3 linked regions of the Homo sapiens genome follow. The protein of the gene in region 3 interacts with the protein of the main gene of each other region in a pairwise test. Each region holds a gene or a part of one and is shown on either strand. Other genes may lie near its edges. The genes, in order: PLEKHM1, MECOM and VPS39.

The links.
Region 1: the proteins of VPS39 (region 3) and PLEKHM1 interact in binary tests that used the Homo sapiens proteins (3 or more experiments, as listed by UniProt).
Region 2: the proteins of VPS39 (region 3) and MECOM interact in a two-hybrid assay, tested with the Homo sapiens proteins (one study listed by BioGRID).

The regions. Positions count from the first base shown.
Region 1 is NC_000017.11:45,487,651-45,495,731, forward strand, and holds the start of PLEKHM1 (pleckstrin homology domain-containing family M member 1), read right to left. Parts: upstream 3,072-8,081; 5' UTR 3,002-3,071; exon of another isoform or gene 1,587-3,001; intron 213-1,586; exon of another isoform or gene 132-212; coding exon of another isoform or gene 78-131; intron 1-77. UniProt on the Homo sapiens protein: Acts as a multivalent adapter protein that regulates Rab7-dependent and HOPS complex-dependent fusion events in the endolysosomal system and couples autophagic and the endocytic trafficking pathways.
Region 2 is NC_000003.12:169,082,934-169,086,758, forward strand, and holds the end of MECOM (histone-lysine N-methyltransferase MECOM), read right to left. Parts: intron 2,111-3,825; coding exon 1,976-2,110; 3' UTR 574-1,975; downstream 1-573.
Region 3 is NC_000015.10:42,184,232-42,191,350, forward strand, and holds part of VPS39 (vam6/Vps39-like protein), read right to left. Parts: intron 6,937-7,119; coding exon 6,894-6,936; intron 4,978-6,893; coding exon 4,883-4,977; intron 3,626-4,882; coding exon 3,527-3,625; intron 3,133-3,526; coding exon 3,040-3,132; intron 470-3,039; coding exon 286-469; intron 1-285. UniProt on the Homo sapiens protein: Regulator of TGF-beta/activin signaling, inhibiting SMAD3- and activating SMAD2-dependent transcription.

The sequences.
Region 1 (8,081 bases), on a different chromosome or scaffold from region 3:
CCTTCTCTATATGTCCAATTTCACTTCCTCCAGAGATCAAGGAAGCAAAAAAAGAGAATGACTTGGATGAGACTTACGTTAAAAGAAGAAAGGGATAACCTGGTTCCACCACTCTCAAAACACTCCACCATCAGTGAACAGCAACCTCTTCTCTTGAGGGACTCCTCAGCCACTCCCCACGGCCTTCTCTCCACTGCCTGAATTGTGTAACTGGCTGTTCAGAGCCACAGCCTGGCTTTAAGCCATCCAACTGCTGTACCAATTGATGAGTCATGTTTTTTCAATTGGAAAAGAATGACAAAGTTATCCTCTGATTCAGAAAGGCAGCTGATCTTTCAGGCATGTGAGTGCTGACTGAGGAAACTGCACCTCTGTCCACCTGAGGAAAGCTGGATTTCTGTGATGGGTGGAGTGGTGGGGGTTGGAGCTTTGAAGCAATTAAATACCAGATGAAGGGTGAGAAACTTTTAGCTTGTGATTCCCAGACTCAGGGCTAGTGGATGAGGGCAGAATTGTGGAGTCAGTGAACACTAGCTATCTTTCTTTCCTCCCTCCTTCCTTCCATCCAGTATCACCCAGCTTTCCTGTATTCTTGTCCCATATCCCAGAGGATTCTAACAAGGACCAAACTCTGAATGAATGAAAACAGGACCGTTGCCTGACCCATTCACCATTGTATTTCTAGTACCTGGAACAGTGTTTGTCACACACTGGTGCTCAAAAAATAAGCTGTTGAATGAATTGATTAATAAAATAAAAACAAGGCACGGGGTAAGTACCTCCACTTCACACACTGTGGGAAGTTGGGGTATACAACTCTTAAGTGCTGGGGCAACTGTGGAGCTCCTGTCATTAAGCCAAGCTGCCAATAAGGCTGAAAACAACTTAAATATACTGCATATTAATGGGAGGACATTGAAGGTAAACAGCATTCACTTTTCAAAGGAATACGACTATAAGTGGCAAGCAGAGACAGTGTTCTTTGGGGCTCTTTAAAACTGCAATCAGCCAGGTGCGGCGGCTCACGCCCGTAATCCCAGCACTTTGGGAGGCCGAGGTGGGTGGATCACCTGAGGTCGGGAGTTGGAGACCAGCCTGATCAACACAGAGAAACCCCCATCTCTACTAAAAATACAAAACTAGCCGGGCATGGTGGTGTATGCCTGTAATCCCAGCTACTCGGGAGGCTGAGGCAGGAGAATCGCTTGAACCTGGGAGGCAGAGGTTGCGGTGAGCCGAGATCATGCCACTGCACTCCAGGCTGGGGAACAAGAGTAAACTCCGTCGAAAAAAAGAAAGAAAGAAAGAAAAAAGCTGCAATCAAATGGCCCACCCATCTGATGCCGGGTCCTCAGGATTCAGAGAAAATGTGTACCAAAAAGCCCCCAGGAAACTATAAATGCTGAGCATGGGACTTGGGTGCCTCTGGAATGTCCTTCTGCCTCAGCTACTCTGAGATAACATGGTTCCCTGTGTTCATGGAACCCAGATGGCCAAAAGTCAATGATCCAGCACTTAAAAGAAAAGAAAGCGATTCAAGAGCCTCTGTACCCACCTAGGCCTCAGCCTCCCCAGGACCTACTCACCTATACTCTTCACAACAGGTAACGTTGCCTCTGGCACCCATCATATCCCCTGAATTCAGCATCAGGACTGATCTGCCATCAGCTCTGGCAGGGAGAGGCCCTTACAAGTGCCAAGAAAAGGAACACGAACAATATTCTGTGACCACAGCCAACACCACACAGAACTTCCCAGAAGCTCTCCAGGGCGAGAACACCAACCAGAAGGAAGTGACAGCTTCCATCATTCTGTGCTAAGTGAGCTGAGTGAGTGGCCGTCTCTCACCTTCCAGATATTTGAATGATACCTACCATTCCAGCAGCCAGCACAAGTCATTTAATATGAATGCCAAAAACACAATCCCTGAGGACAGGTGCAGGAGACCAGATGCCAGGAAAAACCCCGGCCCCACCCAAGAGTTGGGGAGAGCCCACTGCTCCTCCACCCTTATTTACCACCTGAGCCCCTGCACCCGCCAATCATGCTGCTCAGTCTGTAACTGCGGGTCTGAGTGAGCACCTACATTTGGCTGTTGAGGGGCAGCTGGTGGAGTTGGCAGGCGACTCTGCACTAAGTTCTCAGGTTGAATGGGAGTTGGGTCGAGGGAAGCAATGGACGCAGAGTTGGGGTGAAGAGTTGCGGTGGGTCAGCGGGGGTGAAAGGACATGGAGATGTCATTTTTAACAAGATTGGGTGAGGGTGGTAGGAAAGGAGGCAGCAAGAGTTCGGGACAGTTTGGCAAAGACTTAGGGATGGGCTGTCCTCAGTACGGCAGGAGACGCAAAGGAAGGTATACAGTGGCTAGGAGACTAAGGACGAGAAGACACAGTTAAGACTTGGAATAAGGCTGAGATCGGAGTTATCCAGAAGAAAGCGGTGAGCTCAACAGGGCACCTACTTTGGGGGTGGGTCTTAGATGAGAGGGCGGAGGTAGAATGTTTGGGATGAGCAGATCTTGGGGAGCTAGACGGGGGATGGGGGTGACTGGGATAAGAAAGCTGAGCCAGAAAAGGGGAAACCTGAATGGTGGGTCTCGGGGAGGTAAGCGCGGAGCATCGGGATTACCAGAGGGGTGGGGAGAGAGGATGAGGTGTGTCAGGGCGGGGCGAAGGGACGTGGCCGAGATCGGTGTTGGAACTGGGGTAAAGTGGGGTCACGAGTGAAGCTGCATTTAAGCAAGACCGCTGGTGAGGGGATGCGGGCGCGGGCTGGGGGCTGGACAGACGGAGGGGACGGGGCCACAGCGGCGGTGCAGGGGGAAGGCTGGGTCGGAGAGGAGCGGGCGCGGGCTGGACAGGGCTGAGGGCCCTGAAGCCGGGCAGTCTCAGGGTAACCAGGGGCTGGGAATCGCGGAGGGAGCGGGAGGCCCACCGCCCGTTCGCGCCTCGGCCCTCCCACCACTCCGCCGCCCTCCTCGCATCTTGACCCCCTAACTCACCAAGCGGAGCGAGGAGCGAGGCGAGGGGCGCTCCCGGCCGCGGCAGCCCCTCAGCCTCCGAGCCGACGATGCGGTCTCTCGGCCACTGACAACAGGAAGCGGCGCCCCGGCCCCTGACGCCATCACGTTGGCTCGGCGCTCCGGCCCTGCCCCGGCCCGCGGTGCCAATCGCGCAGCCCGAAGGAGCCTTGGGGCGGGGCCAGCTGCTCCCGGAAGTCCCTGGGAGCTGAGCCCCGGGGCAGATGCGAGGTCTGGGAGGCTGGGGAACTGGGGGCGCCTGCAGGGCGCAGAGAGGCGAAGGCACCGGTGTCAGGGAGAACGCATCCGTTACCGCCCGCCTCCCGCAGGTCTGCGTCAAACTAGATCCTGGCTTCTGGGTTCCTGACCTCGTTTGGCCTCAGAACCATCTGTGCAACATTGGGGCTGTCACTTCGCCTCCCTCAGCTGAAGAGTTCCCACTTGTGAGTGGGACTAATAACGCCTGCCCTATCTTTGCCTCTCCGAGGGCAGCAGTGCAGCCCGTGGGGCGGAGCCCGGGCCCAAATTGGAGCCTCCGCCTTGCGCTTTCAGGATAAACATAGCTGTTTTGACCACACTTTATCCCAAGGGAACGCCTTGAGGTCCCCTTGGGCACTCTCCCGTGTGTAACTCGCCCATTAGCACCGCCTGGCTTGAAGCTTAGGGGTCTGGTTATTCTCTTCTAGCCCGTGTAGAGGATTTCTTTCTTCCTTTCTGCTTTTTTTTTGAGACAGGGTCTCACTCTGTCGCCCAGACTGGAGTGCTGTGGCACGATCACGGCTCACCACAGCTTTGACCTCACGGACTAAGTGGTTCTCCCACCTCAGCCTCCAAGCAGCTGGGACTACAGGCGTGCACCACCACGCCCAGCTAATTTTTTCTTTTTTCTTTTTTTTTTTTTTTTTGCGACGGAGTCTGGCTCTGTCGCCCAGGCTGGAGTGCAATGGCGCGATCTCGGCTCACTGCAAGCTCCGCCTCCTGGATTGACGCCATTCTCCTGCCTCAGCCTCCCGAGTAGCTGGGACTACAGGAGCCCGCCACCACGCCCGGCTAATTTTTTTATGTTTTTAGTAGAGATGGGGTTTCACCGTGTTAGCCAGGATGGTCTCGATCTCCTGACCTGGTGATCCACCCGCCTCGGCCTCCCAAAGTGCTGGGATCACAGGCGTGAGCCACCGCGCCCGGCCAATCTTTTCATTTTTAAAAAAATTTGTTTATTTTGTAGAGACAGGGGTCTCACTGTGTTACCTAACCTGGTCTCCAACTCCTGGCCTCAGGCGATCCTCCTGACTCGGCCTCCCAAAGTGCTGGGATTACAGGCATGAACCACCACACCTGGCCTGTATATCTTCTTTCTAACGCAAAAGTGACATTTCTCTTTCAGATGAACTCGGAACAAAATGTCATAAGTGGTGGCCACAGGTAGTGAAGAGCAGGGCAGGGAGTGTTGGCAGGGACCCATGCTCTGGACACTTTATACTTGCAGGCTTTGGTCAATTGGGAGCCTAGGGCCTGAGTGTGGATGAGGAGAGGTACTGCTACATGCCAGTCCTAAGTGGGCACAGGGGTTGGCTGGGGAACGGGCCAGTTCTTGGAAGCAAGCTTCACTGCCCTCGGCCTGGGCGTCCTGTGCTCTTTTGGCTTCTCTGGGTAGGAAGGTGTCCCTCTTATCTCTGCAAAGTTCAGAGTCCCACTGTCTGCTTTCAAGTATAAAACCAGCACTTGGGGGTATGACCCTGGACTGTATGAGGGCCGCCCTTTCAGTAATTCTCTCTCCAGGAGTGAGAACCTCCCCTTCTCAATTTTAGACTAGATGGGTCTGAGTGTGTTTACTGCAGTTAATGGTTGAGCAGGAAGATTAGAAATAAGGACATAGAGACAAACTATTCTCTCGGTGTTAAACTCATTTTAAACAAAGTGGAAAGTAAGGGATTTAGTAGGGAAATCCTTTCACCTTGGCAAAACGATAGTATACAACTGGCACAGCATAATCCTTGGTGGCTTGGCACAAGCATTCCCTGTCCCCCATCAAGCACATAATGTCCCTCAGTAATTCCACTGCATTTTTGTGCAGCGGCTGTGTGCTGGAGCTGTGGGGAACCCCTCGGTAATCTCTTGTCTGCTTTTTAGGAGCCCCTATCTCCTGGTCTTCTCTTACTTCCCAAGCTACCCTGCTTCTTTGAAAAGTCTTCAGGCTTGCCTACCTCTTCTCAGCTTGCTCTGCATGCCTTGGGGAAGCTGCATAAAGCATGGATCATGAAGGAGGGGGCGCAGAGGAGAGGGAAATGCATGTTTGCACAAATGGACCCTGAGCCCACCAGGCAGGCTCCAGATGGGGGGGAAAAAAAAAAAAAAAACCCTTACATTATCACGTGACTTGCGCAAGAAAAAAGGTACCTGCAAAGGGCCAAGGGACCAGAGAGGAGAACTTGAGAGGTATTCTGGAGGAGGCGACTTTTGATATGAGCTTTCTAGGTGAGTAAAGGGTATTGCAGCTGAAGGGACTGGCTGGTAAGTGGCCAGCACATAGGAATACAGGCTGAGCTCAGGGAAGGGTGCACCCAGAGGTGGGGAGGAAGGTGGGAAGTGAAAAAGGAGGCTGGGCACGGTGGGTCATGCCTGTAATCCCAGCACTTTGGGTGGCCGAAGCTGGTGGATCACTTGAGGTCAGGAGTTCGAGACCTGCCTGGCCAACATGGTGAAAGCCCATCTCTACTAAAAATACAAAAATTAGCCAGGTGTGGTGGTGTGTGTCTGTAGTCCCAGCTACTAAGGAGGCTGAGGTATGAGAATTGCTTGAACCCGGGAGGCGGAGATTGCAGTGAGCCAAGATAATGCCACTGCACTACAGCCTGGGCGACAGAGTGAGATCCTGTCTCAAAAAAAATTTTTTTTAAATAATAATAAAAATAAATAAAAATAAAAGGAAGTGAAAAAGGAAAGGGTAAGGGGAGAGGGCCAGAATGGAAGGGGAGCTGAAGACTGAGCAAGGCAAAGTTGGAGGCCAGTGCAGAAAGGGCTCAAACCATTTGCAAGGATGGTTCACATCCCACTGGTCTGTCAGCTTGGATTTAAAGCACTACCCAGCGTTATTCAAAGCCACACAGGAGAACTGTAGGCATCAGAATGCCCTGGGGACAGGTCCAAAATGCAGATTCCTAAGCCCCACACTAACCCTAAAGAGTCACTCTAGGATGAGGTCCAAGAATTTGGGCTTCACCCCACCTCTCCTGTCCCCTGCCCTCACCACTGAGGACCTAAAGGATAATGAAAGGGGGAAATCTGTGCCCTAAATAATCCCTTTTGGCAGTTACTTTCTGTTTTCAAAGTTCAAGTCTGTCCTCCGGGACTAACCTAGGAGATGAGGGATAAGGGAATTAACATTTATGGAAAATGGAAGAACATACATAGGCACCTGTGTTCACCTAATATTCCTTACCAGCCACCTGAAAGGTGGGTGCTGCCATTATCTCTATTGTATGGATGAGAAAATAGGCTTAAAAGAGGTTAAGTGGCCAGGTGCGGTGGCTCATGCCTGTAATCCCAGCACTTTGGGAGGCCGAGGTGGGTGGATCATGAGATCAAGAGATCCAGACCATCCTGGCCAACATGGTGAAACCCTGTCTCTACTAAAATACAAAGAATTAGCTGGGCGTGGTAGCACGCATCTGTAGTCCCAGCTACTTGGGAGGCTGAAGCAGGAGAATCGCTTGAACCCAGGAGGCAGAGGTTGCAGTGAACCGAGATCACGCCACTGCACTCCAGCCTGGTGACAGAGCGAGACTTCATCTCTTAAAAAAAAAAAAAAAAGAGGTTAAGTAACTTGCGGGGGGGCCACAGCCACAGAAGTAGTAAGTGCTAGAAGTAGGATTCTTACCTAGTTCTTTCTGATTCTAGTTTCAGCTTTGTTCAGTGGATTTTAGAGCCAGGGCTGTTTAGGTTTGAATCTCATCTCTATCCCATATTGTTTGCTGGGACTTCCTTAAAACAGTGTGGGGCCCAGGGCAACCCAATGAGTATGGGGCTAAGATAGCTGACAGCTGCCACCGAGTCAGCATTTTTCACAGGCCCGTTGAGATCGCACTGAAGACAGAAATTTCTAAATTGAATTTTATTGATGTTCAGGAAAGAGAAGTAAGTCACAACGCCCCTTCGCCCTCAGCCCCAAGCAGAGAGCCCAGAGTGTGTGACCTCAGGCAAGTGCCAAAACCTCTCTGAGCCTCAGTTCCTCATTGTAAATAGGGGCTAATGTCAGTTGATGTGAGGAGTAAATATCATGATATCCTGGCTGGGCACAGTGGCTCACGCCTGTAATCCCATAACTTTGGGAGGCTGAGGTGGGTGGATTACTTGAGGCCAGGAGTTCGAAACCAGCCTGGCCAACATGGTGAAACCCCATCTCTACCAAAGATACAAAAATTAGCCAGGCATGGTGGTTCATGCCTGTAGTCCCAGGTACTTGTGAGGCTGAGGCACAAGAATCGCTTGAACCTGGGAGGCTGAGGTTGCAGTGAGCTGAGATTGCGCCACTGCACTGCAGCCTACATGACAGAGTGAGACTCTGTTCCAAAACAACAACAACAAAAAAAAAAAAAAAAAAAGGAAAAGAAAAAAAGAAAAGAAAAAGATGATATCCTTAATGCAAGTTCTGGCCTGTAGTAAGTGCTCAAAGATGAACAGTTGTTACTATTCTAGTTGTGGCTAATTTTCACCCTGCCAATTGGGCAGGTCCTTGCCTTCCATTGCTCTTGTAAGCACTTGAATGAGAGCCTTTCTTGTCTGAACCCCAGATATATTCTTGCTTGGCATCTGATTGAAATAATAAAACTAGTGTTAATGCACCCTCCTCTCTGGACACTGTAATCACTGGTGTGCTCTTCAGTTCTGTTGTAGGAAGCGGTTTCTTTCCACTCTCTCTTTTTTAAAAAATTGATTAAAAAGTGTTGTTATACACACGGTTTACAATTCAATAAAATGAAACGGAATGGGGATGAAACATAACGAACAACAGCAGTTCATTGTCCCTATTGTTCCCACCCTTCTGGGGAGCAGGCTTTCAGCA
Region 2 (3,825 bases), on a different chromosome or scaffold from region 3:
ATTGGGAAACTGCTACATTATTATTTTGAAGAATTTGTAGCACTATGCAGTGTAATTTTTTTTTCTTTTGACACAAGCAAAGAAAGAAAAAATAAATCTTGTTTACACGCAGTTATAACAATGAAAAAAGGATATTTTGCATGTGGACAAAAAATTAAAAGGAGCATAGAAAAGTCAAAGGTTTCCCCCCTTTGTGAATCAGTTAACACTACTCGTATAATGAAAAACAAAAATAAGAAACTGAGTTCCTTTTGGCATACAATCCGTAGAAAACCTGTAAGTCGCTCTTTGTCCTAATTTAAGTGGATGCTGTGAACGTGAAGTGATACCAGGACTGGGTTGTGGTGCACTTGAGCCCTGACTGCACCACATGGGGAAAGTACAGAACAATAAGCGAGACTCATTGTTGCCCAAGAACTATCATTTATGCTATCTCAAAACAAAACAAACATACTCTACATTCCACATATCTGTAGGGCATCAAGATCTCAGCATCATATCTTTAAATCATTGGATCCCAAAGGGAAAGTAAAATTGCATGAAGGAAAAATACCACACAGTGGGGAAAAATACTCCTTTTTGTAAGTCTTTATTTTTTAGTTGCTCCTCCCATAGTAATGCACTGAAAGGCATAACAGTTTATATTGTACAAAGCATTTGAAGAAAGTACCTCAACTTGCTGATTATTTCAAAATGAGATTACAAACAAAAAGAAAACAAATCTGGTTCCTCAATAAAGGGCAAAATAACTGAATACAGTCTGTTATTTACTTCTCTCTTTTAACATAAGGTTGGGAACACTTCATTTTACAAATAGGATTAACATGAACATAACATCGCACAAGCTTGCAGACAACCAGCATAAAATATGGAGTACAGTTTTTAATCAGAAGAATCATGCTTCCATGAAAGAAATTATAATCGTTTATACAATTGAATCGATTTCAGTATTACAAAAACTAAGTTGCATCTATTCGTATTTAGTTCATTAAGAAGGAAAACAAAACAAACAAACAAAAAGGAATGTTAAGAAAAGCCAAACACCATTTGGCACTCTCATACACAGGTCGGGTCACCTTGGTCCTTGAAATTCGGAAAGGGGTGTGCCTCAGACGTCATAAAGTAGTGGCTGACTGGAACAGTGCTATTTTAATCAACAAACAATAGTTTGCCAACAAATAAATACATGATACACGCAACACACACAAAAAAATAAACATTAAAAACAGTGACATGATTGTCTAAAATTAAGATGTTATTACAAGGATTTGGCAAACAATTTATTAGTGGTACAGCGGTACTGGTGATGAATAGGTTACTTCACTGACTTAACCTCTTTGAGTGTTAACATCCATAGTTTACAATATACACATACCCTTTTTCCCTAGTTTTAAACAATGTACTTAAGAAGGCAAAAGGGGGAACAAGTACTCCCTGTTATCAGTTTCTATAATAATTGACTGTGCATTTCATCCAACTACTTCTGTCTTCAAAGGGTTAAATTACATAAAACTTTAACGAAGAAAAAAATTAAATCTGTAATTAAAAGCAACTGTTCCCAATCATGTCAGGTGATCTTGTACAAAAGAGAATTCAGTTTCTATGGAGTGTTCATTCATATCAATGCTGCCATCTCAACTGCCCTTCTCACCCACCCATACCCTAAGGTGGGGTAAACTGGAAGATGCCTTCAGCCCACCAAGTTTTTTGTTTTCACTGAATCACTTTAAGTCGCATTGATTGATCTTCCAGAAGTCAGCAGCTGCCTTTGCTGTGCAAAACAAAATATCGAGAATAAATAGTTTCTTTTTTCTTTCTTTTCTTTTTTAAATCATTCAGTTTAAGGTCACTAGACTTTAGATGAGTGACCCTGCAGGTTTATAAGGCATTCTGCTCAGCAGTCTTGTAAATAGTCCTATATGAAAGAGCCATGCTACTGTTGGACTTGGTCCCACTCTGGTCAACCTTGATAACGTCATACGTGGCTTATGGACTGGATAGCACTGGATTCCGCCGCAGCCCTGGCCATACTGTGCCACACGTTGGAAGAACTGTGGGATGTAGAATGGAGGGACTCCTTGTCAGACAGTGACAGCATCATAGCATATGCCTGGGGTAAAAAGGAGAGAGACTCAGTAAATGGCATTTGAAAAACATCACTTTTAGTTCAAAGAATATTGTTGGTAAATGGAAAGGGATGGGACCCTGAGTAGGGGCATCCTTCATGGGTGTGTTTGGCAAAGAAGGCATATTTTTTGTAGAAACCACATGGGATTACTGCTGGCCTTTAGTGCCTAGGGGCCCCAAAAGTGACACACGCTACAGAACCAAAAAGAACTATCCTACCTAAAATGCAAATAGTGCTTCCATTGAGAAAAATGAGTCAGTCTCCTGTTCAACTATAAATACAGTCATCCATCCACTACATATGTTCAATTCACCAAAAATATTATTGTGTGCTTATGACTGAAACCTCAAATATTAATAAGATATAGACCTACCTTGACAGAGCTGTGGCCTAGTAGAGGATACAGCCTGACTCCTACACTTTATAACCGAAAGCACTGAAGGTGCTTGAGTGACTTGCCCAAAGTCACTCAATTAGATAGATAGTGGGAGAAGCATAACTAAAATGTATTTCTGCCCAACTTTTAATCCATTGTCTTTTCTCCAATTTCCCTCCATGCTTGACATACTCAGTCCTGGCACCCATAAGTTGAGGTGGATCAAATCAGCTCTACCAAAAAAATAAAACCAAACACAAGACCCAACAGTGTTCTAATCAACTTGTTTTCCAGTGTCTGCTGAGCAGAAGGTGCATGGAGGTGCTCTGTGAGGAAGTACTCTTTCTTCCCTATTATCATGTCAAATTTTAAATAACTGTTCAGAGAGTCCCCTATTTACTGCCAAGCAAAATATTCAAATGAAATGTTTGGTCTTGACTTGTAAGTGAACTTTTCACTGTTGATTTGCTATTGTTGGTCTCATCCATTGCTAAACTTGCTTGTCAAAATGCTGCTGAAGTGGAATCATTAAAGTCCTGCCAAAGACATTCCACTGTCTGTAAACAAAGACAAAATGCCTCTGTTGTTAGGCAGAATTTCATCTCTGGGAGTCATGCTGAGACATGTGGCCAGTCTGTGGTTTCTTCCGTAATCATTGCATTTAGTTAGAAAATTTACCCTTGTAGGCTGATTTTTGATTTGCTGGGTCATCGCTCTAAATGTACACATTTGACTTTTATGTATGCAATTTGCCTTTTGGACTTCTACAATATCTCATGATCCATTTAACAAATATTTCTTAAGCATCTACTCTATGCCAGGCTCTGTGATAGATCCTAAGAAATTAAGAATAAATAATATAGAGTACTTATCTTTGGCAGAGTTTAAAGTATGGGTTAAGTGAGCATTCAACCTAAATTATCTATTCTGATTATGTACCTACTTTTAGAGAACAAGATAAAGAGTACTCTGAAAGAGTTAAAACAAATTCTGATATTTGGGAAGATAAAAAGGAGTACAAAGAAAATTTTGGAATTTAAATTTTAATCCTGCCTTTAAACCTGCCTCTACTCACCTAGCTGTGTGATCTTGAGCAAGTTGCTTAACCTTTTAAGCTTTACTTTCCTCCTATAAAACAGATGATAGTAATAACAGTATTGGCCTCCAAGAGTTGTGGAGGAATCACATGCACTAACTTACATAAAGTGTTTAGCTCAGTGTGCCTGACTGAGGTAATACATAAATAGTACCTATTACCATGAAATTAATTTTTACCGGATAGAGTTTCTTGAGGGAGAGCACATGCAAAATGCAGCTACTA
Region 3 (7,119 bases):
AAGAAAAAAACTAAGAAGTAAAAGATAGCAGTAGATAATCACTTCCTAAAATAAACATTTCTGTTTATATGTTTTCCCCCTCTGGAGTAAAACTCAGCTTCTTGCAAGAACTAGACTATCCCATTTTTAATGACCCTAAAATGTCATCTACTTATAAGAAGGGGAACTGAAAGTGAATGACACAACGTAAACCAGTCTGCTAAAGCTACGAATGGGACTCCGTTCTGCAGGAATGGCACACAACCTCAACCCAAAGTGGGAAACAGCAGCTACTGTTGGTCTCACCCATGGCCACTGGTATGTCCGTCCAGTTCAGGGCACATTTCTGTGTGCAGATCCCTTCCTCATTGAGTACCACGGTGAGATCATCCTGGCCCACAGCCACTTTTCCATCTGCCAGAGGTGCAACTAAGGGCTCCAGCTGTTTTCCTGTTGGAAAGAGCTCTTTGATGGACCCCTTTCCATCCACCTATAGGAAGAAACAGAGTGAGTCACCTAGCATTCCCCAGCCAGAGGTAAGAACACAGGAAAAATCCAGATAGAACCCGAAACCTAGAGAAGCCAATAATATTCCTTGTTTGACATAAGAAAATGTTACAGAGTTTATTATAATAACCGTTGTTATCACAATGTAAAACCCGTTCTCTAATGCAAAGGAAAGCATCTAGCCTGGCAACTGACAATGCCAGGTGCTGGCAAGAATGCAGAGCAACTAGAACTCACATTCACTGCTGGTGGGAATGCAAAATGGTGCAGCTGTTTTGTTTGTTGGTTTCTTACAAAGTTTAAGATACACTTGCCATATGCCCCTTAAAGATACACTTACCATATGCCCCAGCAATCCCATTCCCAGGCATTTGCCCAGGAATGCCAATGTATGTTTACACAAACGCTTGTATGCAAATGTCTTAGATGCTTATTCAAAATTGCTAAAAATTGAAAACAACTTTTTTTTTTTTTTTTTTTGGAGACAGTCTTGCTCTGTCGCCCAGGCTGGAGTGCAGTGGCACAATCTCAGCTCACTGCAACCTCCGCCTCCTGGGTTCAAACAATCCTCCTGCCTCAGCCTCCTGAGTAGCTGGAACTACAGGCGTGTGCCACCACGCCAGGCTAATTTTTTTTTTTGTATTTTTAGTAGAGATGGGGTTTCACCGTGTTAGCCAGGATGGTCTCAATCTCCTGACCTCGTGATCCACCCGCCACGGCCTCCCAAAGTGCTGGGATTAAAGGTGTGAGCCACCGCGCCTGGCCAAAATCAACTTTGTCCATCAACTGATGAATGGATAAACAAACACCTTGCCATAGACTACTATTCAGCCATGAGAAAGAATAAACTATTAACACACACAACAACATGGATAAATCTCCAGTGCATTCTGCTAAGTGAAAGAAGCCAGACTCAAAAGCCTACATATTGTGTCATTCAATTTATATGACATTCTGGAAAAGGCAAAGCTATAGGAGATGAAGAACAGATGAGTGGTTACCAGAGGTCTAGGAACAGAAGGAGAGGCTGACTTCAATATGAGGGAATTTTGGGGGGTGATGGTAGTGTTGTGAATCTCGATTGTGGCATTAGTCACATAAATCTAAGCATTTGTCAAAACACAGAACTGTACACCAAAAAGAATAAATTTTACTGTATGTAAATAAGTAATTTCTGAATAGCCTGGTCCTAAAGCAAGGTTTCCCACCCTGAAGGTGATGTCAGCATCCAAGGCAGTCAGAGAACTGAGAGCCTTAAGTCCAGCTTTTGCTCAGTTCCCTTATTCCTTGTGCGCTCTCTCACCATCTGTAGGCCTACTTGCTATTGAGTCAGTGGCACAGCAGTGACTCCTCCAGGAGTCTGCAACTCTGATGCTGATAAAATCAGGATATTCAAATGACACAAAGATGGAACAAATATATTAACAAGATAACAATGGGGCCAGGCATGGTGGCTGTAATCTCAGCACTTTGGGAGGCTGAGGCAGGAGGGCTGCTTGAGCCCAGGAGTTTAAGACCAGCCTATGCAACATATTGTGACCCCATCTCTACAAAAATACAAAAAAAAAAAAAATACAAAAATTAGCTGAGCATGGTGGTAGGCATCTGGGCTACCTGGGAGGCTGAGGTGGGAGGACTGCTTGAGCCCAGGAGACGGAGGCTGCAGTGAGCCAAGATCCTGCCACTGCACTCCCGCCTGGGTGACAGAGGGGTACCCTGTCTCAAATAAAATAAAATAACCAATGAAGAGCTCACCCAGTGGAAGGTAGAGAGAGAGGCTTCTAGAATTGCCATGTCTGAATTACAAGGGGTGTGAAGCTAAGAGATTTAGATTATTCAATGAAACGAACAGTGTGTCAATCTTTTCTACATATAGTATGCATATTGGAGAAAAACAACGTCATGGATATTTACAACTTACGTTAAGAGAAAACACAGGTCATAAAACAATTGTATAGCATAGTATTTTTACCAATAGGATGGAAGTTCATATACCAAGAAGTTGGCAGTGACTATTTCTGAGTGGGGGGACTATGGTTGATTTGCACTTCCTTTATCTCCTTATCTATATTTTCTGTAATAAACACGTGTAAAAACACGTGGCTTTTGAAATTTAAAAAAATAGTGAGAATCACTTTTAGTACAAACATACAAAAAGATTTGACGGCAGGAGAGGAAACTCAAAGTCTTAAAAATACTTAAGTTTATACTAAAATTAGTTTAAAATTCCTAAGCACTGAAGCCTTAGGATAGCAGTCCATGATGATCCACTGGACAGAGGCAAACAGCCTTCATTATCTGTCCCAATAGTAAAATACACACTGTGGATCATCATTACGTAAAGAACTGAGCGTTGACTCTTGGACTGACTTAAGTTACAAAGATATCCTATTTGTGAAAAATGCTGAGCATGAATGATAACTACACATACAAATAACAAATCCTGTTATGCCAAAAGCTCTACTTAAAGTGGTCGCTTGACCTGGAGTTTGGAGCAGATAATCATCTTCCCCAAGATAAACTAATGATATTTGCAAAATAATAAGATTTTACCCTTATTAGGTAGTAGTCTCTCTTGAAACCCACACAGATAGAATTTTCACACCACGCCATGGACTTGGGCACATCTGGCACACTAAAGTCCCCCTGAAAAAAGAGAGCAAGGATCTGAATGAAATAAATATTTTTTTAAAAAATCATGACTTTCCTGTTATTCTGCAACCTCCATTCTGCAAAACAACCCTCACCCTCATCGGGCACAATTCTACAGGCACAAGGCCAGGAAACTACCCTTAATAAAAATACAAGTCCATGAACTGGACAAAGTACATTTGGAAAAGGTGAAAACCCACTTTGAAATAAACCAATCTATAAAAACACTGTAGAATCATATTACAAGTAGGCATCAACAAGCTCTCATGCACTTCATACCAGAGTATTCATTTGCGTAGAATGACAAGACTGGAGTCCTGAACTTCACTAGAACCGAGCCACTGCAGCAGCTCCCACCCAACCATGGACCAAGGAACAGTGGACTTACCTGCAATTCATGAAATTCCCTGTCCTTCCAGAAATAGAGCTGCAGCTTCTTTTTTACTGCCACACACATCCGTAACACCTCCTCACCGGTCTCTGTGTGCTGGGAGGAGACATGCAGAGCAAATGAAAATACAATGACTCTCTCTAACTGAGTGATAACTAAATTAGAGATTGTCTACCTTGAAATTGCTACTACTCTGAAAATTCCCTGTAACACAGTCATCCTGCCAGGAAAGCTGAGCAGAACACCATTCTCTAAGATGCGCTAAGAAACAAGTGACTGAGGAACACTTCCTCCCGAAGGGTTGCCAGCCAAAGACCACAGCACCAGCAAATCACATGGACATTCACAATTCAGAGGAGAAAATCCTGGGGCAGTCCTTCCCCTATATAACTCCTCCCTCCTTTTTGCTCTTAAATGTTTCTTGCTCCTGGCTGTCAATGCATGCTGGGTTAAGGGTGACCATGTGCCAGTGACATCAAGCCCACTTTTAAGCCTTTAAAGAGCAAGGAAAAGAGTATTCCTAAGCATAAAATGATGCAGTGTCAATGTAGAACATAAATGCTAAAAAATGGTAAGTTGAGTAGAGAGAGGGGTGAGGCAGATTCTGAAGAATAAAAGAATGATAAATTGGCAAAAATAAAGAGCGATATCTTTTCTGAACAATGAAAAGTCCCTAATGACAAAGACCTCAGTGATCTGTTTAGAACAAGACTCCATTTAATGTCTTATAATTATCTTCATGATATTGTTACAGTCTTGCTTTCCCAACAATGGTTTGTCCAGGACGAGAGTTTTTGTCCTCGGTTAGCTGCCTCTTGCCAATAGTATTAGATTCTCATTAACCCACGCACAGGGAATGCAAACGCTTCAACTTCACACTATGCACCAACAGAGAAATTTCTCTAATACAATTAAATATTCTCTTTGGGCCGGGTGCAGTGGCTCATGCCTGTAATCCCAGCACTTTGGGAGGCCAAGGTCACCTAAGGTCAGGAGTTCGAGACTAGCCTGGCCAACATGGTGAAACCCCATCTCTAATTTAAAAAAATACAAAAAATAGCCGGACGTGGTGGTGCACACCTGTAGTCCCAGCTACACAGGAGGCTGAGGCAAGAGAATCACTTGAGCCCGAGAGGCAGGGGTTGCAGTGAGCCGAGATCGTGCCACTACACTCTAGCCTGGGCGACAGAACAAGACTCCATCTCAGGAAAAAAATAAATAAATAAATAATCTTTGGAGTCTCTGTTGGGTATGGATCATCAGTGTCATTCTTCCCATCTAATGGTAGGAATGATGTAGGAAAGACTGTATTGATTAAAGCATAAAGCCAAATTTCATCTTGGGTAAACTTACCTGGAGGTCACAAGTAAACAGTGATGCTCCCTTTGCCTTTGAAACCGTAGTGATTTGTTGAAATGTCAATAGGTCATGGACATAAATGTTATTTTCTGTTTGGGAGGAGGTATAACATCAGGATCAATGATCATAATTCTCTAGCATAGCCACTATCGAGGCAAAAAAAGTAACTGTGTTAACATCTAGAAGAAGCAAATGGCAGATGTTGGTTGAAGATGTCCCTTCAGTTTCACTAGGATGATTCATTCTCACCTATAACCAGTACAAAGCATTTAAGAGGTCACTTGGTCTTCTAAACTTGGATATTTTCTTCCTTAAACATTTGAGCTTGGCCCGGCATGGTGGCTCACACCTGTCATCCCAGCACTTTGGGAGGCTGAGACAGGCAGATCACTTGAGGTCAAGAGTTTGAGACCAGCCTGGGTAACACAGTGAAACCCTGTCTCTACTAAAAATACAAAAATCAGCTGGGTATGGTGGTGGGTGCCTGTAATCCCAGCTACTCAGGGGGTTGAAGCAGGAGAATCCCTTGACCCAGGAGGTCAGAAGTTGCAGTGAGCCAGGGCTGCACCACTACACTCCAGCCTGGGCGACAGAGTGAGACTCCGTCTCAAAAAAAAAAAAAAAAAAAATTGGGGCTGACTTGAGTAAAAGAGATCTTTCACTTCCAAAACACTCTTTTTTTTTTTTTTTTTTTTTTTTTTGAGGCACGGTCTCACTCTGTTGCCCAGGCTAGAGTGCATCAACAAAAGGGGCATGATCTCAGCTCACTACAGCCTTAACCTCCTTGAGACTCAAGTGATCCTCCTACCTCAGCCTCCTGAGTAGCTAGGACTACAGGCATGCACCACCACACCTGGCTAATTTTGTTTATTTTTTGTGGAGATGAGGTCTCCCTGTGTTGCCCAGGCTGGTCTCAAACTCCTGGACTCAAGCAATCCTCCTGCCTTAGCCTCCCAAAGTGCTGGGATTACTGGTGTGAGCCACTGCACCCAGTCCAAAGCACTCTTATACTCTGTCCATTTCAAGTCTGAAATATTATGATGCAGTATTTATACAAGAAATGGCTTTCAAAGCTACTCACATTAGGAGGCTCCAATTAGAAAAGGGAAATCCCCTGTGCATTTTGTACTAACCCATGGCAATGATTTCTTTCCTAGCAAAGCAATCAAAATAATCATTTTACCTGGGCCTCATATCTAGTTTTAGTCATGAAGATTAAGTTACCTCAGATGTTTATCTGTGGACCCAGGAACAACATTTAACATGATTTTACTCTTTGGGCCCCAGGGTCAACAGCGCAAAGTGTGAGATCAGCTGCTAGTCCCCTGCATGTCCAGAAAAGGCCTCACTGGCTGCTTTCTATGAAACCATGGTTTTTCACATGAGGGCCTCAACAGTGTAGCCCTGCTCTGTCTCTTACCTGATATCCTGCCAATCTCCACCACATATCCTTAGTCTGGCCACAATAAACAATTTGCCACAAACTGCCACATCTCAAGGCCTTTGTTCTAGTTGTTCCCTGTGTTTGTGATACGCTGCTGGCCTCTTTTCCTACTGAAAGTCTAGTTATCTACTAGACAATATAGTCCCTCCCATTACCAAGATTCCACAACACTTTTTATAAATTTTCACTGTAACTTACCACATTGTATCGTGATTACTTCCTGTCATTTAGTCTTCATAATCAGAATGTAAGTCTCAAAGATAGCAACTATGTCTCACTGAACTTGGTATCCCGAATGTCTAGTCCAGACTTTGCATAGAATAGGCTCAATAAATATTTGATCAATGAACGAATGAATGAATAAAGTGAGACTCCTTGGAGAGAAGAGTTCGAGTCTATGGAGGATGCTGCTGCCTTTATTAACCATGTACCCTGTTATACCAGGTTTGGAACACGTCAGTTCATTGTTAAGTAACCACTATCAAATTAACCATGAAAGGATTAATTAGGTCATATCTTTTCTTGTTAGACACAGGATACAAATGCAACTCCTTTTCTTACCTAACAAGCTGACCAGAATCTTAAACTGGGAAACCACATGGATCTGGAAAATAGGAAATCATGAGACCCAATTAAACATTTCTGACAAGGTTTAGCAAATGTTCATTCAATAACAGTAATAAAAAGGGACCACGGAGCCTATCCAGTTACAGGGATCTCACTGATTTTTCTGGGCACTATAATTTCTGTGATTATCATTTCTGCTTGTGAGAGAGGATCTCAGGCA